Linked DNA regions of Homo sapiens: region 1 is linked to region 2. The links come from fine-mapping of genetic effects on plasma protein levels. Region 2 holds a variant in brackets. A gene starts in the other region. All regions are shown on their reverse strands.

Evidence for each region. A credible set is the group of variants that fine-mapping cannot tell apart. PIP is the posterior inclusion probability: the model's chance that the variant is causal. Protein levels are from antibody-based Olink assays in UK Biobank. Linkage for the fine-mapping came from a reference panel and not from the study's own genotypes, which makes the PIPs less certain.
Region 1: INSL5 starts here. The variant in region 2 is the best candidate, but not a certain one, in a credible set for the plasma level of the INSL5 protein (UK Biobank, PIP 0.58).

Annotation. Positions count from the first base shown.
Region 1 is chr1:66,796,974-66,808,764 of GRCh38, reverse strand. It overlaps INSL5 (insulin like 5), which reads left to right and starts at 7,489. Exons shown (of 2, transcript NM_005478.6): 1 at 7,489-7,718; 2 at 10,520-11,025. The coding sequence starts at 7,544. The coding sequence ends at 10,752.
Region 2 is chr11:4,695,648-4,707,438 of GRCh38, reverse strand. It overlaps OR51E2 (olfactory receptor family 51 subfamily E member 2), which reads left to right and starts at 9,586. Exons shown (of 2, transcript NM_030774.4): 1 at 9,586-9,786. OR51C1 (olfactory receptor family 51 subfamily C member 1) reads left to right here and starts at 9,586. Exons shown (of 2, transcript NM_001396051.1): 1 at 9,586-9,786. The coding sequence starts at 9,778. It overlaps MMP26 (matrix metallopeptidase 26), which reads right to left and starts at 2,655. Exons shown (of 8, transcript NM_021801.5): 1 at 2,394-2,655. The variant A/G (reference allele first, on the strand shown) is at 6,735.

The DNA of each region.
Region 1 (11,791 bases), not on the chromosome of region 2:
TTGCATAGTAGTTCTGTTTTTAAATTTTTGAGGACTCTCTATACTATTTTCCATATTAGCTGTACCAGTTTACATTTCTATCAACTGTGTGCAAGGGTTCCCTTTTATCTATATCCTTACCAACATTAGTCTCTTCTCTTTTTGATAATAGCCATCCTAATAAGTGTGAGGTAATATTTTGGTATTGATTTGCATTTTCCTGATGATTAGTGATGTTCAACATTTCATATACCTGTTGGCTATTTTATGCTTTCTTTGAAAAAAATGTCTATTCAGGTCCTTTGCCTATTTTTTATTCAGGTTATTATTATTATTGCTATTAAGTTGTATGTCAGCTGGTCATTTTAATCCTTACTGATAGGGAATTAAAAACATCACTGTAATGAGTGGTAAAAAAGTTTAATCTATAAAATCATGCAAAAACTTTTCTAGATAATGTTATTTCAGTATCCCTTCCACACACATTCTTCATAAGTTAACCAGAGTTAAAAAGTCAAGGGAAAGGAGTTTCAGATGGGGAAAAAGAGAATATGGAACTTCAATATCTGTAAGGCATTTGATATAACTGGACCATTTAGAGTTCGAGGATATCTAAAACCTGAACAAGTAGAGAGAGGCCAAATCATGAAATGTCTTGCAGGCCATATTAGAGAAATTTGGAAATTTTCTTCAGGGAAACTGTTGGGGGGTTTTAGAGATGGGTGATAATCATGAGTTTCAGAAAGATCATTCTGGCAGCAGTATGGAAAATGGATTGATGACAGGGCCAACTGAGAGGCCATTGCAGCAATGCCAATGAAACCTGAGGTCATGGTAGAGGGGATAGAGAGCAGTGGGTGGATCATAGAGAAATTTAGAAGGTAGAACCAAAGAGACTTGGTGATTTAGTGGATGTTTGTGTATGGAAAAGGTTTAGTCAATGGAGTGTGAGAGAAAATGAGGAGTTGTGAATGACTTCTAGGAAAAGCTGGAAGAATCGTCGCATCTTAATGAAGACTCTGTCTAGAAGCATTAAAAATAAGTATTAGCCAACGATGAGCAGCTACTATCTGTGTCAGAAAATAACAAAAATAAATTAGTATTTGCTAATGAATTTATATATAGTGATATCATAATCATAATTATCATCAAATAATTATATGTGATATGCTTTATAATTTATCAGAGCTATAATTAACATTACCGCAATTGATCCTGTGATATTTTTCAATGTAACAAATCAGAAAACCAAATTACAGGTTAAATACATCCTCAAGGTCTCTTAGCTGGGAACTAGAGTAGCAATCCTAAAAGTTTAACATTCTAATACCAAGGTTCTATTTGGTGGCATTCCCACCATTATAATTTCCATCAATGATCAGTCTATTGAAAGTTTCCTTGTGCTAGAGACTCTGATCAGCACTCTTTGGATCATTTAATCCTTACAATTAGCCTAATAAAGTTTGTATTATTATCTCTATTTTACAAATGAAGAAACTGAGATTCAGAGATTTTAAGTATGTCTTAAAATCTAAAGTATTAAGGTCACATAAATATTAAATGGAAGAACTGATATCTGATTTCCAAAATCCAATGCCACAAACAGTATATACAACTCATGCCAACCTATTCCAAACACCATCTGTTAAGTATACTGTCGTCATAGTTCCTTTATAAATGGTAAATAAGTGAGTGATATATTTACTGAATTCATTGTTTGGTTGTTAATTTGGGTTTTGGTACACATTAATGGTAGGCCTTCATATAATCAATCATATTGAAAATGTGGTAATTTATTCCAGTTGTTAAGGCCAAATAACTTATTTTGCTTTGATCTAGAAACTTGAATCATTATAAACGTTCTCTCCATCTGTAACATGTAAATAACTGTAAGATAATTATAATAGTCAGGATAAGCCAGGTTATGTTGTTATAGCGAGCAATCTCCAAATCTCAGTGACTTCAAATGATAAAGGTTTCTTTTTTTTTCTTTTTTTTATTATTATTATTATACTTTAAGTTTTAGGGTACATGTGCACATTGTGCAGGTTAGTTACATATGTATACATGTGCCATGCTGGTGCGCTGCACCCACCAACTCGTCATCTAGCATTAGGTATATCTCCCAATGCTATCCCTCCCCCCTCCCCCCACCCCACAACAGTCCCCAGAGTGTGATGTTCCCCTTCCTGTGTCCATGTGTTCTCATTGTTCAGTTCCCACCTACGAGTGACAATATGCGGTGTTTGGTTTTTTGTTCTTGCGATAGTTTACTGAGAATGATGATTTCCAATTTCATCCATGTCCCTACAAAGGACATGAACTCATCATTTTTTATGGCTGCATAGTATTCCATGGTGTATATGTGCCACATTTTCTTAATCCAGTCTATCATTGTTGGACATTTGGGTTGGTTCCAAGTCTTTGCTATTGTGAATAATGCTGCAGTAAACATACGTGTGCATGTGTCTTTATAGCAGCATGACTTATAGTCCTTTGGGTATATACCCAGTAATGGGATGGCTGGGTCAAATGGTATTTCTAGTTCTAGATCCCTGAGGAATTGCCACACTGACTTCTACAATGGTTGAACTAGTTTACAGTCCCACCAACAGTGTAAAAGTGTTCCTATTTCTCCACATCCTCTCCAGCACCTGTTGTTTCCTGACTTTTTAATGATTGCCATTCTAACTGGTGTGAGATGGTATCTCATTGTGATTTTGATTTGCATTTCTCTGATGGCCAGTGATGATGAGCATTTTTTCATGTGTTTTTTGGCTGCATAAATGTCTTCTTTTGAGAAGTGTCTGTTCATGTCCTTCACCCACTTTTTGATGGGGTTGTTTGTTTTTTTTCTTGTAAATTTGTTTGAGTTCATTGTAGATTCCGGATATTAGCCCTTTGTCAGATGAGTAGGTTGTGAAAATTTTCTCCCATTTTGTAGGTTGCCTGTTCACTCTGATGGTAGTTTCTTTTGCTGTGCAGAAGCTCTTTAGTTTAATTAGATCCCATTTGTCAATTTTGTCTTTAGTTGCCATTGCTTTTGGTGTTTTAGACATGAAGTCCTTGCCCATGCCTATGTCCTGAATGGTAATGCCTAGGTTTTCTTCTAGGGTTTTTATGGTTTTAGGTCTAACGTTTAAGTCTTTAATCCATCTTGAATTGATTTTTGTATAAGGTGTAAGGAAGGGATCCAGTTTCAGCTTTCTACATATGGCTAGCCAGTTTTCCCAGCACCATTTATTAAATAGGGAATCCTTTCCCCATTGCTTGTTTTTCTCAGGTTTGTCAAAGATCAGATAGTTGTAGATATGCGGCATTATTTCTGAGGGCTGGTTTCTTTTCCATTCATATTACATATTCATTACAGATCAGTGGGCAGTTATGCTCCATATTGTTCTGACTCAGTGATTAGGTTCCCACATCAGGAATGTTGTTGGTAACCACAGCCAGGAAGAGGGAGAACTGGAGGATCATACACCGATCCTTAAATTTCAGGCAGAAGTGACATATGTCACATCCACTCACATTTTATTTGCCAAAATATGCCACATGGTGTTGCCCAATTTTAAAGAGCAGAGAAATACAACCCTACCATGTGTCAGGACAGAGGAGAACTAGAGATACGTCTACTCTAGAAATTCACAGCAATCCCAGATGTTAATCAATTTCACAATGGAGTTATTTCCAACATCAAATAAGTTGTGAAAACATTGAATTAAACAAAGTTAAAGAAATTTCATAACTATAAGTCTTCTCTGGGCTCTACTATATTAGTAGGCATTATTAATCTCAAAGAAAGAGACTACTATCATGGAATCCTTTTTAAAAAATATTCAAAGACCATCTGCAAAGACTCATGTTCTGAAGAAAACACTTTAAGAAACAGTACCATAAGACCTTTCTTTATTAGAACTTGTTTGTGGAAGGATGAAAGGAAAGAAGAAGGCAAGGAAAGGATGAAGGAAGGGAGGAAAGAAAAAGACGACAGCAGTGCAAATTTATGGATGGTTTTGAGATTAAGAGTTATACAGAAGAGTCATCCATAGTAGCTAGTCCCAACCAAAAATAATATTTTCTAATCCCTTGTTCATGACATTGTTAATTTATTATTTATTGAATTATATATTATTCTAGGTGCTGTACTTGTGTTAACTCATTTTGCTTCACAATAACATTATAAAACACAGATTATTATCTCCTCATAGATGGAGAAATTAAAACTCAGAGCGGAAAATTACATATTGTGTCTCCTATGTTGAAATCCTAACCCCCAAGGTGATGAAATTAGGAGATGGGGTCTTTGGGAGGTGAATAGGTCATGAAGGCAGGACCCTCATGAATGGGATTGATGACCTTAGAGACCCCAGAGAGCCAGCTTGCCCCATCTTCTGTGAAAGGACACAGAGAGAGGTCCTAGAATCCGGACCATGCTGTCACCTTCATCTTGGACTTCCCAGGCTCCAGAACCGTGAGAAATAAATTTCTGTTGTTATAAGCTACCCAGTCTCTGGTATTTTGTTAGAGCTATCCGAAGGAAACCTGAAATAAGACACATAATAATTGCCACATAGATAGTAAACTGAGTTACAGACCAGAATGAGGAAGAAAAATCACGTCCATCTCCAAATGAAAGGGATTAAGTGCTCCTGTGAGAGGTGCAAAAAAGAAACTGTGGTTACTCAAAAGATGGAAAGATTCCTTTTCAGTTGGTTAGCCTTTCATGGACCTTGAGGTATGTGAAAAAAGTGATGTTTGGGTACCTGAGTGGAAAGCATTAAATGTGATATTGTTTGGATTGTCTTCTGGAGGTAATGGTGAGCCACTGAAGGTTTGTGAGGTGGGAGTAACATAATCAGACAATTATAGCAAGACTGATAATTTCAAGTGCAGAGAAGACTTTTAACAATTAAATCCAACCCTCTCAATATACAAATGGGGAAAATAAGCCCCAAAATTTCAGGCTTCACATCTAGGGCTTTTATTATTGTCATGAGCTTTTTCATCTGGGTAGCTACTTGGCTGTCTAACTTGCCTCCATTAGGTCACAGAATGAGCTCAAGTATTGCCAGCCTTCCATCCCAAACTAAATGAGCCCTAATGAGGTATTAAGAGCTGGTAGAAGAGGGGACTACTTTGCACCTAGGGGCATCAAGTGTGGTGATAGCAGGATCATGCCAGAGTCCATCTGACATCCAAGGTAGGGATCGTCCCTTGGCTGAATATCCCTGGGGTTGTGCAGAAGCCCAATCCATAGCCACTGATGATAGATCTACTGCAGTGCTATGTTAAAACTGGCATTGTCAAGATATGCACTATAAATCTCCAAAGAAGGGAAGAAGTTTGGTAATACATGGCTCAATAGCTGTTATGTTGTGGATGTGCTAAGCATGGTAATACAGACGTCCCTCTGGAGTTGATGAAAGATGCTGATTTTGACCCATCCAAAGATGGAGTAGCTTTCTCTGATGACAGAACCATTTCTGCTTCTTTGGTCCCTTTCTTAGCAAATGACCGCCCTACCTCCCAGTTGAACAAGCCAGAAATCGAGGTATCATATTTGACATCTTTCTCTCCATTGCCCCTGATACCCAGTCAGTACCAAGCCCTTCTATATTTTGAATACACATGTGTCCTATCTCTCTTCCATGGCCTTAGTTTAGGCCACCATCATATCTAAATTATTGAAACAGCCTTTTTCTGTTTTTCCTTTCTCAAGTCTTGCCTTTCTTAATCCATTCTTCACACTACAGCCAAAGAAATGGAGAAAGCAAGACTCTTAGAAATAATTTTTATTTTTTACAGCAAAGAATGCTTTCAATTAGATAACAGATTATTTTGTTGTATTTTCCAGCTTCCCTACAGAAGAACAGTGATTTCACAAGAAGTACAAATGATATGATCATGGCCACAGACTTAGCAATTTTTTTCCAACCAGGAATCACAGACAAGGATTTCACAGAATCAACTGAACCATTATTTGTTCAACTTGCTAAAACCTGAGTCAACAGTTCTTTAAGATCCCAAACTCTGGGATTCTCAGTTTAGGTAAGACCTTTGCAAGAGCTAGTGCTTTCAGAGGTTTTACCAAAAGAGAAATTTCATTATTTAGCTATTTGGGATATGGACTTAGCTTTCTATTATCATAAATACGTGTGTTGAGAAAAGTGTACCTAGGTCATAGGTGAAGGATAACAAGATCCTAGTCAGATAAAATCTTCTGAATTCTGAAGTTATCTTTTCTAGTCTTCTATTCTGATGGTGAGAGGAGAAGCAGCTAATAATTAGTAGCTGTTTTTTTTTGTTTTTGTTTGTTTGTTTGTTTGTTTGTTTTTGTTTTGAGACAGAGTCTCGCTCTGTCGCCCAGGTTGGAGGGCAGTGGCGTGATCTCAGCTCACTGCAAGCTCCACCTCCCGGGTTCATGCCATTCTCCTGCCTCAGCCTCCTGAGTGTCTGGGACTACGGGTGCCCACCACCACGCCTGGCTAATGTTTTGTATTTTTAGTAGAGACAGGGTTTCACCGTGTTAGCCAGGATGATCTCGATCTCCTGACCTCGTGATCCACCTGCCTCGGCCTCCCAAAGTGCTGGGATTACAGGCGTGAGCCACTGCGCCTGGCCTATTAGCTGTTTATTGTACCAAGTGGGACGCATGTTATCACATTAGACCTATGAGGTAGTTACAATCATCAACACTATTTTACAAAGAAGGATGCCTTAAAAACTTGCTTAAGAGTCTAGATCTGGTAAGTAACAGCCAGGCAACAGCAACGGCCAGGATTCAAACTCAGGACATAAGAAATTGCCTACTTAAGTGTGATATCCCATTGTTCTGACATTCATATTGCTTTCAATATTCAAAAAAACCCCTGTGAGATGGGTCTTCCCATTCCAGAGATATGGTTATTGAGGTTCAAAAGGTTTTTTTGTTTACTTGTTTGTTTGTTTGTTTTTTAGAGACACGGTTTCACTGTCACCCAGGCTGGAGTACAGTGGCACTGTCATGGCTCATTGTAACCTTGAACTCCTGGGCTCAAGTATGCCATTGTGCCTGAGTAATTTTTAAATTTTTTGTAGAGATGGAGGTCTCACTATGTTGCCCAGGCTGGTCTTGAACTCCTTGCCTCAAGTGATCCATCTGTGTTGGCCTCCCAAAGTGCTGGGGTTACAGGTGTTAGCCACCAGGCTTTGCCTCAACTCAAAAAGTTTAAAACTTGCCTTATGTCACTCAGTAAGTAGCAAGGCTGAGAGTGAAACTCATTCTTGGCAACTTTCAAAGTCCGTGAGTTTTCCATAATGCCTTCCAAGAGGGCATCTGTTTTTATCATCTCACAGATGCGTTGATGGTATTAAGGAGAGACTGAATAGCTGGCAATACTCATAAAACCGCATTTTCAAAACTTTACTGTGTAACCCTATGTGCTTAGCAAATATTGTAAAAATGAGGTTCTGACCAATGAAATGTCAGGAAAGTTAGTATAAATTGGTCAAGAGAGTGACAGTCACTCCAGAATTTGATTTGACTATATTTACCATATCAGATTCACATTCAGTCCTCAGCAAAATGAAGGGCTCCATTTTCACTCTGTTTTTATTCTCTGTCCTATTTGCCATCTCAGAAGTGCGGAGCAAGGAGTCTGTGAGACTCTGTGGGCTAGAATACATACGGACAGTCATCTATATCTGTGCTAGCTCCAGGTGGAGAAGGCATCAGGAGGGGATCCCTCAAGCTCAGCAAGGTAACAGTAACTCATGTGTCTCCTCTATTTTCCTTTCACATGTCTCTTTTATTTTTTCAAGCTGTGTTTTAAACCATTATTTTATTAAGTGTTTCTCTAAGTACTGTTGAGGCATTTTTTATGTCAATTTAAGGGATTAATTATCAAAATATACTGAATTTGGCTTGGGAAAGTGATGAGCATGCTACCTTTCAAAAAATAACTACCTCATTTTTTAGTCCCCTGCTTGAAATCATTTAATCGCATGACTACTTCAATGGGCTCAGCATCTGTGGAAGGTACTTTGGAGGCTATGGCGAAGCATGTGATTTCAAGGAGCGTGTTGAAGTAGCAAGACTTTCACTCATGAATAATTGTACAATATAATAAGTTAGAATTCCGGCAGTTGTTAAATATGGATGCAAGGAAAGAAGCTGACCTTAATTGAGCACTTTTAAGTGCTGGGAAGTTACATGTGCAACATTTCATTCAGCTTTCTGATAAGGATCCTGGGAAGCAAGCAAAATTACCACCATTTATCATTTTACCAAGAAGAAAATTCTTCTCCCAGCTGGTGAAAATGTGGTTAGGTAGGAAACTGGGTCTATCTGGCTTCAAGAGCCAAGGTCTTTACTAATTCCATACTGAGTCTCGGGTGGGAAAGAGAATGTTACAAAATGTCACCTATTACAAAATGTCACCTATTTTGTAATAGGTGACAGCATCATGGAGGTGGTGGTTACTGACAGAGGCCCTGAAGGATTTGGGGATTATGGAAGGTGGTGGGGAAGCAGGGTGGGAATTCTAGTAGTAGGAATTGTCTGATCAGGATTTTGAAGGAAGAAATGAACCAAATGTCTTTCAGAAACGGTGAAGCGGCTGACTTCACTATATTTCTTTATTATTCAATTCAACTAACTTAAAAATTTGACTGAAATTCTTTCTGTTAATTCCATATTAAAGTATGAGGTAGAATTTATTTAAAATCCTATTTTTAGATTTTTATTTATTTATTTATTTATTTGATTGGAGACAGGGTCTTGCCCTCTCACCCAGGCTGGCACAATCATAGCTCACTGAAGCCTCAAACCCCTGCACTCAAGTGATCCTCACACCTCAGCCTCTTGAGTAGGTAGGACTACAGGTGTGTGCCACCACATCTGGCTAATTTTTAAATATTTTGTAGAGGTGGGGTCTTGCAATGTTGCCCAGGCTGGTCTCAAACTCCTGGCTTCAAGCAATCTTCCGTCTCGGCCTCCCAGAGCACTGGGATTACAGGCATAAGCCACTGGGCATGGCTGAAAATCCTATTTAAAAAATTATTTTTTTAATTGGTAAAAATTATATACATTTATTGTGTACAACATATTGTTTTGAAATAGGTATACATACAATATACATGTGGAATAGCTAAATCAAGCTAATTAACATATGCATTACCTCACATACTTATGTTTTTGTGATGAGGACACTTGAAATCTACTCTTTTAGCAATTTCAGGAATACAATGCATTTTTATTAACTATAGTCACCATGTTGTACAATAGACTTCTTGAAATTATTCCTTCTAATGGAAATTCTGTACTCTTGACCATCTCTTCCCCAACCATCCCCCTCACCCTCACCCTCTGATAACCATCGTTCTCCGCTATACATTTTTGAGTTTGACGTTTTTAGATTCCACATATCAGTGAGATCATGTGGTGTTTGTCTTTCTGTGCCTTGCTTAAGAGTGTATTTTAATAATTGGTTGTATTTGCTATGTTTTATACTAAAAAGTTAAAAAGGAAAAATGTGATTACATAATAAATGTTGCGACTATATGTATGATTGTTAAGGTTTCAGTTTAATTTAAAATGATGTTGGTAATAAAAACCTTTTAGAAAATGACCTAAACTGTTCATCTTTGGGTGGGCTAATGTGTTGAAAAAGCATGTATTTTCCATTTTCAGTACCACTTTAATATTGAAGTTCATATGACTAGTTGCTAACAAAAATTATATGGGTTTTTAATCTTAAGAGAGTAAGCATAATTTACCAGGATTTACAACAATCTCTGTAATAGCAAACCAAAATGCACTATAAAAATACATTTGGGATATCTCTGAAACACATAGGGGAGTGGAATGGATATCTATAAGGCTAGCTCTGTTGGACATCACTGAAATCATACTACTTATTATTCAATCTTTCTCAGATTTTCAGTGTTTTCCCACACATTATTTATCTGATCAATTACTGGTTTACCAACCAGCATCTGTTCACCTAGTTTTTCATGGTGCCTGCTGGTGTGCTAAGGCATTGATAAGTCAATTTGAACTAAATTAAAGTGAGAGAAGCTTATATATGAACTTTGGAAACAACACTTAGGCAAAAACTGTGAATTTCACTTTTTATTTTCAGATATAGAGGTTTAAATCTCCATTTCCTTCTTTACTGATCGAGATTGCAGGGCATACACAGGGTTTTTTTTTGTTTATGTGTTTTTTGTTTATAGCACATAACTAATATTGGAAGCTGCTGGTCATCCAGCAGAGGTAGCGAGTAAAAGAAGTCAAGTCCCGACTAGCTGAGCAACACTGACTGTCACTCCTCATCTTTGCACTCAAGTTTCTGCCTCTGTAAAATGAGGACAGTGGAGATGACTGTGCTCTCCCCAAAATGTCTAATCTCTCTGAAACCAGGCCAACATTTTAAAAAATTATGTGTATGATTCTATTTCATTTTAGGGATCCAGTTCATTTCCCCAGGAGTGGAATGTGGTTGCTGCCTTCTTTGTAGGAGCTGTCTAAGGATGTATTATTTTTTTCTCTTCCATACAGCTGAGACAGGAAACTCCTTCCAGCTCCCACATAAACGTGAGTTTTCTGAGGAAAATCCAGCGCAAAACCTTCCGAAGGTGGATGCCTCAGGGGAAGACCGTCTTTGGGGTGGACAGATGCCCACTGAAGAGCTTTGGAAGTCAAAGAAGCATTCAGTGATGTCAAGACAAGATTTACAAACTTTGTGTTGCACTGATGGCTGTTCCATGACTGATTTGAGTGCTCTTTGCTAAGACAAGAGCAAATACCCAATGGGTGGCAGAGCTTTATCACATGTTTAATTACAGTGTTTTACTGCCTGGTAGAACACTAATATTGTGTTATTAAAATGATGGCTTTTGGGTAGGCAAAACTTCTTTTCTAAAAGGTATAGCTGAGCGGTTGAAACCACAGTGATCTCTATTTTCTCCCTTTGCCAAGGTTAATGAACTGTTCTTTTCAAATTCTACTAATGCTTTGAAATTTCAAATGCTGCGCAAAATTGCAATAAAAATGCTATAAACCAAGCTCACTGTGCTGTTTTCTTTTTAAAAAATTGTAAACAACTTTTAAACAGTAAACCGAAAATGCTGGTGATGGGAAAATCTAAAAATATACATAAAAAATAAACATCAGCTATTATCTCATCATCCAGAAATAACTATTCATTCTTAATGTTTGGGTTACTGTGTATTGTTACTGAAAACTTAAACATTGATTCATAGTGTAAGCCAAAAAATATCTGAGACAGTTCTCAATCAATTTAGAAGTTTATGTTCCTATGGTTAGGGATGTGAACCCAGGAGACAGGTCTGTGTCTTTCTCCAAAGATGAGTTTGAGGGCTTCAATATTTAAAGGGGAAAGAGTGGATATTGGGGAAAGAGGAATAACTTTTTTTTTTGAGATGGAGTCTCGCTCTGTCGCCAGTCTGGAGTGCAGTGGTGCAATCTTGGCTCACTGCAACCTCCACCTCCCAGGTTCAAGTGATTCTCCTGCCCCAGCCTCTCGAGTAGTTGGGACCACCATCACACCCAGCTAATTTTTTCATTTTTAGTAGAGACGGGGTTTCACCATATTGGCCAGGGTGGTCTAGATCTCTTGACTTCGTGATCCAACTGCCTCTGACTCCAAAAGTGCTGGGATTACAGGTGTGAGTAACTGCAACCAGCCGAGGAATACTTTTTAAGAGGTGTGGGTAGGCGAGAAGCAAAGGGTTGCATTCTTTTGAGCCTTTGATCAACCATTCACATGTGATAGCGGAGTAGAGAAATAGTCACTTGTGCATTAATCTA
Region 2 (11,791 bases):
GATTAGGGGTTAATATTCAAAATATATAAAGAACTCCTACAACTCAGTAGCAAAAACACAAATAACTCAATTTAAAAAGGGACAAAGGACTTGAATAGAGATTTCTCCAAACAAAACATACAAATGGCCAACAAATATAAAAAGATGCTCAACATTACTAATCACATAAATGTGAATCAAAATCATCAAAATCACAGTGAGATATAACCTCATAGCTATGAAAATACTTATTATAAAAAACAATAGCAAGTGTTGACAAGAATGAGAAGAAATTGGACCTATTGTACACAGTTGGAGAGAATGTAAAATCATGCAACCACTGTGAAAAACAGCACATCCACTCTGAGTATATATCCAAAGGAAAGGAAATCAGTTAGTCAAAGAGGTATCTGCACTTCCATATTCATTGCAGAATTAGTCACAATAGCCAACATATGGAAACAACCTAAATGTCCATCAACAAATGAATGCATAAAGAAAGCACAAGACATACATGTAATAGAATACTATTCAACCTTAAAAGCAGTAATATTCTGACACATGCTACAACATGGATGAACCTGAAATGAAATACTTCATGATTCCACTTATATGTGAAGTATCTCTTAGCCAAACTCATAGAAACAGAAACTAGAATGGTGATTGCAACAGACTAGGGAGAGGGAAAAATGGGGGAGATGCTGTTAAACAGGTATAAAGTTTCAGTTACTAAAGAAGAATTAGTTCCAGAGATCTGATATACAACATTTTACTTATAGTTAACAATACTGTATTGTGCTATTAAAAGTTAGAGTAAATCTCATGTTAAGTGTTCTTTTCTTTCTTTCTTTCTTTCTGTCTTTTTTTTTTTTTTTTTTTTTTGAGATAGGGTCTTGCTCTGTTGCCCAGGCTGGAGTGCAGTGGCGCAATCACTGCTCACTGTAGCCTCAAACTTCCAGGCTCCAGTGATCCTCCTGCCTCAGCTCGCCAAGTAAAGAACCTGTAAAGTAGCTGAGACTACAGGCACACACCATCATGCCTGGATAATTTTTTTTTATTTTTTGTAGAGATGGGGTTTCACCATGTTGCCCAGGCTGGTCTTGAACTATTGAACTCAAGGAATACACCTGCCTTGGCCTCCAAAGTGCTGGGATTACAAGTGTGATTTTATCACAATAAAAATAAATAGAATAGCTATATTGTAAACAGCAAAAATAAAAATAAAACATAAAAGAAAAACCCAACAGATTAAGTACTTGGCTATATTTCTCTCTAATAAAATTAGTGGTAATGTATTTAATGCCTTCTACGTGCCAAACAATTTACTTCACTGAATCTGAGTCCCCCTTTCCACTGTACATAGCTCATAGAATCTTTCTTCAACTCCTGCAATCAAAGGGAAACGTAATAGGATTCTTGTAACAGAGGGAACTCTATTAGCAAACATGGGTCCAAGAACAGCTCCCCCCACCACCACCACCACCACCCGCCCCCACCATCCCTGCTCCTGGAGCTGGAGTGCAATGGCACAATCACCTACTCCTCCCAGGTTCAAGCAATTCCCTTGCCTCAGCCTCCCGAGTAGCTAGGACTACAGGTACATGCCACCACACCCAGCTAATTTTTTGTATTTTAGTAGAGATGGGGTTTCACCATGTTGGCCAGGATGGTCTCGATCTCCTGACCTCGTGATCTGCCCACTTCAGCCTCCCAAAGTGCTGGGATTACAGGCGTGAGCCACTGCTCCCGGCCAATAATAGCTTTTTAAAAAAAATTCTGTGATTCTTAAACCAGTCTTGAGTTGTCCTGCGCTAAAACTAATGAGCAAATATTAAACTCTTCTTAAACAGTTCTCTTTAAGTGTCTCTTTCTCCCCCACTGAGAATTCTTCCATGACAGAGCCTATAACTTAAACATCCCTATTACCAGACTACCAGGAACATCTAAATAGACAGCCCTCACAACAAAGCTTCACATTCATTACTATCACAACACCATTATTGGGTATTAATAACTCCCCTTTATGGGTGAGAAAGCAGGGTAAGATTAGATAATCGAGTCTCAGAGGAAACATACGACGTTCTCAAATTCACCCAACAAGCCAATGGCAGATTCAGGAATTGAGCTCTGTTCTTACTCCAAACGCCATGCTCTCGCAAACTCCTTATTTAAATTTTTTTTTCTTTTTTTACTGTGGCATGAACAAACACATGCTGATGACTGTAGTCTATATTTGGAATAACTATTTTGAACGCTACAACGATATTTTTGAGTTGACATAACGTATGAAAATACACTACTGAGTTCATGCTCACATTTACTCTGAATACTTCCGCGTTTGTTTCATATACTATCTGAAGGTTATACAGTACCTAATTTATTTATAACTGTCTTCAATGCACTACAACACTGACCTTGTGCACAGAATTCTTGGGTCTGGAAGGTGAGGTTATTTGATCCTGCCCCCTGCTATTTGAAGGATCATCCCACACAGCAGAGAATCTATTAATGCAAAGCAAGTGAGAGAGAGTTATCTCAACCTCACTAACTTACTTGCAGAAAGGTTCTGTACTACTATAGCTGCGGAATCAGCCCCTGATCAGCCCTGCCCCTGGACAAAGAGGTCCTCTTCTGCCAGGAGAAAACATAGGGAAAAAATTCAGGAATAGGAGAACTACCAGATTTGAGAAAAACAGCCTTTATAAGGAGCCTAGAAGTCACCTGGTGAGAGTCATTTACCCAGCAGAAAAGCAAATTCCTAGGGGAGAACTCCCTACAGCTGTGTCCTGTTAACCCTTTGTGCTCCAAATAACAAATTGTAAAAGGCAACATATTTTCAGTCTATCTTCACTCTTTCTTCCCCAAAAGATAATTCTATAGATGAACTGCAATTTCAATTCTCATTCAAGAGCAATTTGAGCCCTAAACAGCTGTAGGACAACTTTGCATAGAGCCAGAGTAAGGAAGAAGTGTTGTTGTTAACGGATCATTAACAGCTGAGTTTGCTCAGCTGCCATTTGCCGGTTTCACAGCAATCACGAGACACGGAACCCAAATAGGAAAGGGGTTGCTGAGTTACTACATTCACTGAAGGTAGTGCAGTGGTTTTCTGATTGAGGGCCCAGGCCCTCCCCTGAATTTCCTGGGAGCTGTTGCTAACCTGTGCATAGTCACAGAAAATGACAACTTAAGAGGAAGTGACTAAAGGAAGACTACAAAACTTTATGAGTCCCTTGTGTGTCCCTTGCTAGCTTACAGAGATACTAGTCTGCTCTGTCCTAAAACTGCTACCAGCATGTTTACCACTGTGGTGGAGAATTAACCATGTTTGACAGACAGCTTCTATTTAAGCTGTGGACACTCATAAATGGCTTTCAGCTTTGTCATTAATACAGCGTTTCACAATTAATGGTGAGCTTGGAAGCTTGGTAAATTTCAAGGACAACTATTTAAACATGTTTCTTGGCATAAGAGGCTGTATCAAGAGGCCATTACCTTACAAAGTCCTGCTGTATGGAAGAAGGGGACGAGTTAACTATTCCCGTTAGAGTTGCTACAGAGCAGAAAATTTAATTATCCTGTTTAATTTTTTTCTTCTTCTCATGTCACAAGATTCTAGATCCCTAGGAAAATCTGGAAAGATGCATTTTTTCCCAGAAGTTCATAAAGAACCTGAGAAAATATGCTCTCTTTTTAGGTATTTTCTGGACTAATAGAAGCATAATCTTCCCCCATAAATACCTCAATGGGTTAGGGGGGAAATCTTAACAGTCCCAGATAAATGTGCCACATAATGTATGAGACTCCGTGGGAAAAAATGCACAATTTAAATAGAAGCTTTCAAGATACAGAAGCAAAAACAGACGTCCAGGCTGTTACAGGGAAATAAATGTGAAAATCTTACTATCCATGCTAGGAATTCCAGTCTGAGGGGCACTGGTTCATGCTCACAGACACAAGTGCAGGCTGATCTTCTACACACAGCTGCAGAAAATGGAACACAGAAGAGCTTCGGACTCTTTTTTAGTGCACACTCCAGACATTTAAACCATTCACCAGCCAAGGCTTAACAATCAGTGGATACAAGAAGGGCATAATGATCAATGCTCATTTTGACTGGTTGTCTATTCTAATTGTACTGTCCCAGGACTTAAGTATGTTACACACTTGCCTACATCTACCTGTCCATTAAGAGTCAACATAGCATTGGTTCAACTGAAAGTATTTGGAACCAGACAACCTTGGTCCAACCAGACAACCAGACAACCTTGGTCCAAAGCTCAGCTCTGTCACCAATCGTGTGACCTTAGACTACATCACCTCTGTTTTTTGCTTTTAATGTGGAGAAAATCGTTATACTGCTTTATAAGTCTATGTTGTAAAATAAGATAACCCAGTATTGATCCATAAAAAGGTCTTAGCACATTTGCACTCACTCAAAATGTGTTATTAATCATTGTAATAATTTATTTTTATTATTTATCATGATTACTATTGTTCTCATTAATATAGCAATTTTATTAAATTATCATTTAGTGCCTAGTATGTGTCAGATACTATGTTCCAATGTTGAGATGAGAAGGTGTAGTATCTACTCTCAAGGAACTCATATATCAGACAGATAGATAGACAACCATTATAACACAAATCTGGTCAGGACATTATCCTGCTTTCAATTCTTTGGCTTCCCAGGTCCTCAGAAATCTGGCCTTGCGACTGCTTTAGGTGGAGAAACATTTATTTCTACTCTCTCCCCTTCAGTCATACAGAGCTCATTTTCAGTTTCCTAAACATGGCATGGTTTGGCTCAGGTCTGAGCCTTCTCTCATTCTATTCTCTGAGGCAGTATTATGATGTTTACTGATTCCTAAACTCTGTTTCAAATATAATTCAAAACAGTTTTATTTTTTATTTATATTAAAATTAAAATAACTTTTTATCCTACATTTTCTGATTGCAGATTGTGGATAAATTAATGGAAGCTTAATTATGTGGGGGTTTTTTATCCTTTTTTAATTTTTCTTTTTAGTTTCCCTACTTTGCAGTGCCCTAATTTGGTCCTCAGTCCGCCAAGCAGATGAAACACCACAGCAGCTGACCATGCCTGGAACATTTCCTTAACCTTCTGTCATCTCCTCACCCTACTCTACTCTCCTGCCCTCATTACTAGCTCCCCTGTCAAAACCCTTTTCACTCACTCGGATCTCATATTATCAATTACATTTGGTTAGCCTCCCTTGATCACACAGGCTAACTTGTCCCAGCACCTAGGTGATCTATACCAGCACTTCACAAATATGAATGGCACATTAATGCGCTAGGTATCTTGCAAAAGCGCAGGTTCTAATTCAGAAGATCTAATTTTCTTTTCATTTCCAACAAGTTTCCAGGCGATGCTAACATTATTGGTCCTTCAATAGCAAAGATCTCTGTGAATACCACTTGTAGAGTAATTATAATACAGTATTTTAATTTCCCATTTACTTATTTGTATCCCCCATTAGACTTCGAACTGTGTAATATTTGGGTTGATATCTATCGTGTTCACTGTTATACCCTCAGGATCTTGTTCAATACCAGATATATGTAGAGTATCTATACAATATTTCTCTTAATAAATCAATTAAGAACTTTAATGAAAGCATGTGCAACAAGATATAGTGGGAGCAGAGAAGAATGGAATAAATAGGAATATTAGGAATAGCTAGAAGTTCACAGGGAGAGGTAAGGAGGAGTGACATTTCTATATACACCAAAATTGAATGGTCAGTGTTAGCCATATCAACGGGGTAGGAAAACTGCTAAATCCAACATGGCTGGATCCAGGAAAAGAGGTGAGTGAGGCTTTCATCAGACCATGGAGGGCTAGTAGGCCATATGGAGTTCTAATAATTTTTCTGAACAGTAGTATAAACAAAATGGTTTTTGACTTAGTGTCTTAATCTATTTCCTCTTGCTATAACAGAATACCAAATACTAGGTAATTTGTGAAGGAAAGAAGTATATTTAGCTCACAGTTCTGGAGGCTAGGAAATTCAAAAGCATGGTGCCAGCCTCTGGAGAGAGGTTTTGTGCTGCCATTACATGGTGGAGGGCATCACATGGCAAAAGGGCAAGGGCATTTGTGTCAGCCCAGATCTCTTTTTCTTCTTATAAATCCACCAGTCCCATCATGATGACCTTATCTGATCCAACTTATCTCCCAAAGTCTTCATATCTAATCAAGATATGACTTTGGGAATTAAATTTCCAACATGGGAGACATATTCAAACAGTAACACACAGCAACCCGTTTTCGTTGCTGTTGTTATTGTTTGTTCTCTTTTAAGTTTATTTCTACAATTTCAATGCATTAACCCTGGATTACCTGTTTTGCCTCTGGCCTCTTGCTCCTGTATCAAACCCTGTTTCTTTTATATCTTAAACTGTTTGCTCCTTGTGCTAGTCTTAGCCCTGAAACTTGTTTTTCTATTTCCTGATCAAGCATGACCATCCACTTGAGCTGGTATATGCACAAATTTTAAAGGTTGCATAACATCCCAGGACTCGATATAAATGCTTTATATATTCTGTATCATTGAGAATTTTTATCTATATTTTTTACCACTGTAAATAATGGGGCAATAAATTTTCCTGTACATAAAATATGGCCTGCATCTCTGATATCTTCCTTTCAATAAATTCTTAGAAATGGAATATTATGGACATTTTAAGACAACAATATACTGGAAAATATGCTTCCAGAAAGTTCATGC[A/G]AACATTGTAAAACAATGCTTAGTCCACTGTAACACAGCAACACAACACTATGTATTATGTGTTTTAAAAAACATTTGCTGATTTGATAGCCAAGAATATTTTACTGTTTACCGTAGTAAATGTTGACAGTCAATAAATAAGACTTACTTCAAGTTCCTAGTGCAGAGTTTTCCTATGTCCAATTTGGTACTTCCTGTTTGGATTACCAAGTTTCAGAAACATTAATATGAAGTCAAATGACATCACAGACTATGATATGTTTCCTGGACTCAATGGAGTTAATATTAATGTATTAATAAGATGTGTTGCTGTATGATTTCATGGAGGAACATTGAACTCAAATTTTCAGAAAGTTTAGTTAAATTACCAGCTACTGTTCTGCTAGGCTGGCATGAGAATAGGGCAGTGAGAAGAGCCATATTTTGACGTAGTGTGCCAGTGTGTGTATTGGTGCTTTAACCAGTACACACACTAGTTTCATTTTCATGTACTAAGCTCTGGCACAGAATTTACATGGTACCACTATAGTAACTTTATTTTTCTTATAAGAGTAACATTCTTTCAACCATAAGAATAAAAATATGTGACTATTCCCAAATAGTTTCTGAGACTAATGGGAAAAGAGTCACAGCCCTACAATTTGCCCAACTTGGTAGAGAAAGTGTTTTCAAAGGTCTCAAGAAGTTTCCTGTGCGGAAACACAACAATAAAATACCTTTATGTGCAAGGAATAAGCATGCACAAGTGACAACCTGTTAACATTCAGTTTGGCACATCAGCATGCATGCAGGCTTTTGGGTGTAGATGACTCAAATTGAAAGTAGTGGTGAATGGATAGTCATGTGAAGACTGTTTAGAAAATGAGTTTTGAAAACTGAGAGGGTGTCAGATAGCCGAGGCTTTGAATACTACTTGTGCCATTTATAACTGAGAAACTTAGGTAAGTTACTTACACTCTAATTTTTGGTTTAAACATGGTTTAAGACATAAATCAAACTAATAATGGATTCTTCTACTGAATTTATTATTGTAGAGTTGTGTAAGTCAAAAGTTGACATGGATCTCACTGAGCTAAAATCAAGGAATCACCAGGCTGCATTTCTTTATGGAGGGGCTAGGGAAAAATCAATTATCTTCTTTTCTCCTTCTGGAGGCTTTCCACATTCCTTGGCTTGTAGCCTCCTTCTGCCATCTTCAAAGCCAGCAACAGTGGATCAAATCCTTCTCATGCTGCCATCTCTCTGGTTCTCTACTTTTAAAGACCCGTGTGACTATATTGGATCCACCCAGCTAATCCATCTAATCTTGCCATCTCAAGTTATTTAACTTTAATCACATCTGCAAAGTCCCTTTGCAATGTAAGGTGACATATTCACAGGTTCCAGGCATTAAGACATAGGTATCTTTAGGGGCCATTATCCTGTCTACCACAAACACTTGGCCTAGTATCATGGATGTAGAATGCATAATAAAATATTATTGTTCTTGTTATTTATTGTTTTTATTACATTATGAAGAAGAAAATATCTCAGGCCATGACATTTTCAGTAGTGAAACAGATTTGATAGTGGAGAGGAGATAATATCGGAAGCAGGGAGAATGGTTAGGAAACTACTGAAGTTACCCAAGTGAGAGATAATTGTGACTTAAATAAAGGTGACATTTCTGGAGATGATAAACAGTGATCAATTTCTGATTGTATTTTTCAAAGAGATTGACATAATTTACCAATGGATTAAATGCAGGGTGTAAGAGACAGAAACTGAGAATGAATCAAAGACCCATATGCCCAAGTGTGGTCCAAATTGGTGGGAATATCTAAGGATCTAAAGAGGCCATAAGGAGAAAAGATGGACAACTTATAGCAATCTATGCATTCTATTTATTAAAGACTAATGAGAGTGATAGTAAACTGACAGAAGGTGACATCATTGGCCAAGTCAATCACCCACCTACCTGCAATTTTTCTTGGTATAATACAAGATTTTCAAAATTTGACTATAAGTAGAGAGAACCCCAAATTATTGTGACTAATTCTCTTCAACCTGGTAGGTTGGGACTTCAAAATACGAAATAGGTCAAATTATAAAAAAGTAAATGAAACCGTATTTTATACACAAGTAAGTTGTGAACCAAGATTTTTACCTACTGTATTCACCAAGCATTTGGTTCATGCCTCTAGGATAACCTTATCATTGGTTAACATGTAATTATTGGTTAACCTGTCTATCTTCTACACTAAAATCCTAAACAGTAAGAATTATGGTGTATTCTTAAAAAAAAAAACTCTATCACTGAGTATAATGTTTAGAATATGGGACATTCTTATGAAATATTTACTGGATATATGTATGGATGAGTAAATGAATTATTTTTTATCTGTAAGAGAAAGACTGCTGCTGCAAAGAACCACAGGTGGGCTAATGAAACCATACTGCTGTGAATAATCATAGATACTGAGGAGTTAAGGGGTGGAGTTGGACTCTCACTCATAATGGGAGATGTCATTTAGCAATTTGCTACAATATTTCGTTTTTTAAAATCTCCTTCAGAGTGACTGCTAGTGATTATGAGGTTCCTTTTAAGGGTAATAAAAAATGTTCTAAAATTGAATTGTGATGATGGTTCTTGCACAGTTCTGTGACTTTACTAAAAAAAATTGAATCATACACTATAAATGGGTGAATTTTATAGTATGTGAATGATATAACAATAAAGCTGTTAAATAAAAAAGCTTTTGAGTGAAATGACACATGAAAAAAAGGTTACATCAGCCCATAAAGCACATAGCCACCGTAAGTAATTGCATAATGGAACAGATATAAAAGGACTGTATGAGGCAAAAGAAGTCTTCTGGGAATCTCCACACCCTGAAGACACAGTGAGTTAGCACCACCACCAGGAATTGGCCTTTCAGCTCTGTGCCTGTCTCCAGTCAGGCTGGAATAAGTCTCCTCATATTTGCAAGCTCGGCCCTCCCCTGGAATCTAAAGCCTCCTCAGCCTTCTGAGTCAGCCTGAAAGGAACAGGCCGAACTGCTGTATGGGCTCTGTAAGTAAAACTGTTTTGTTCAATGAAAATGCTTGACTCTAGATGAATTGGACTTTCTCACCCACAGGGAGTAATTTCCTCACAATGTGCAGAATTAGATTAGATGTTGGTATGGTGGGCTGAGGAGGACGGTAGAATTTCAGAATTATTTATTCCCAGGAAATACGTAGAGAATGGGTATTTCGTTCTGCCTGATATAGGTTAGATAACTTGTTTTTAGTCAAATGGTTTAATCAGTGTGCTGATATATTTATCACAGTCAGTGAATCTCATTTCTATGCCCAATAACTATTACTAAAAATGAAAAGTTACCAATTTCGAACGCATTGCCTGCCAGCTACTGGTATTAGACACAGCGCATATCCTGTCTTATAGATGAGGAAACTGGGTCACAGAAAGTTTATATTACTTGTAGATTTCAGTAAAACAATTGTTTTTGAGAGCACGAGCTTTGGAATTAAAAAGACCTGAGTTAAAAATTCAGCTCTGACTTTCACCAGTTGTATGTGATTTCAAATATGTTTCAGACTTCTGATACTCAGTGTCTTTACCAGAAAAATGAATTTAAAGTGAATCTAATAATACTTGTCACATGATGACATAGTAAGAATTAAAATAATGCTTATAAAGCACTGAGGACAATAATGTTCACAGAACACGTGTCCAGTAAATGGTAGCTATTTCTATGAGTAATATTTTTATTAATGGTGTAGATGGTCTCAAAACTAGTTAGTGTTTGAGCAAGAATCTGAACCCAGGTCAGTCACACATGATAGCCATACCATTGACAATAGCATGGAGAATACTGATGACACTATAAGGTCTAGTTCAGCAGATTAAGACAGCCACAAGCTATAGCTTATAATAGTGCAATGAAAGAGGAGCATCATTGTAATCCGAGTGGGCAGAAAAATTAGTTGAGAGAATATAGCTTATTTCACAAGAGAGAAAATGAAAGTATATATGGATTGGAGAGGATGGGTCGGAAAGATTCTAGAGTGAAGGCAGCACAAAAGAGAAGCTTGGGGGAAATTTAGTGCCTCCTTCTAAGGATATTCATTAGTCCCCCTCTTGTCTTGAATATAAACACTTAAGATTTTTTCAATGTAAGAAAAATGCAATGAAATAATAGCTGCAAATACCCACTACTAACAATTGCTTGGCCTTCTTATATAGACCTCCCGAGGTTCTCATCTTTTACATTTCAGGAGTAGAATCAGTTAAAAACTAATCTTTATATGTAAGGGATGAGAGAGAGAAAGAGGAGGGTATGTGTGTGCACACATGTGTGTGTGTGTGGTGGGTAGTAATTTTAATTCAATGATTTACTAGAGTTCGATGTCGTTTGCTGATAAATGAAGCAGGAGGAAGAGCCAGGTTTGGAGGGGACGAGAGAATGAGTTCCATTTGTCTCATATAGAAGTTGAAGTAACTGAGTGATGATGGGTAGAGATGTCCCTCAGGGGTAGCCACAGTATTTTATTTACTTTTTATTCACCACATGCAGCAAGGAGCTTTGTTCTCCAAAATGCTGTCAATTATTTTTCTAAATTACAGGTTTGATTGCTTCACTGTATTTTCATGTCTCATTACTACCTTTACGCTTAAAACCAGAAACTTTGCCACAGCGTTAAAGATTCTGCTAACTTTTAAAATACAGAACTCTGGAGATGCCATAATTAGATTGCAGATTTATGAGTCTTCTGGATATAAGTGCTATTTAAAGCCATGAGAATAACCAAGATATCTCAAGGAGAGCATATGAAAAGCAAGAAAAGAAGAGGTACTTCTTGGGAGAAAAGCAGACTCCTCTAGAATCCCACAATTTATAAGGCAGAGAACAAAACCATTGTTTAACAAACAGGAAAAAAAAAAACCTCACAGAATAACCATCACTGAAGCTAATGAAGGAGAAAGTTTCAAGGAGGAGGAGGTAAACATTGCTGAAAGTTGAGATGAGGGAGAGAAAAACAAATCTGAGATTAAACTTTTGGACTTGGCATGT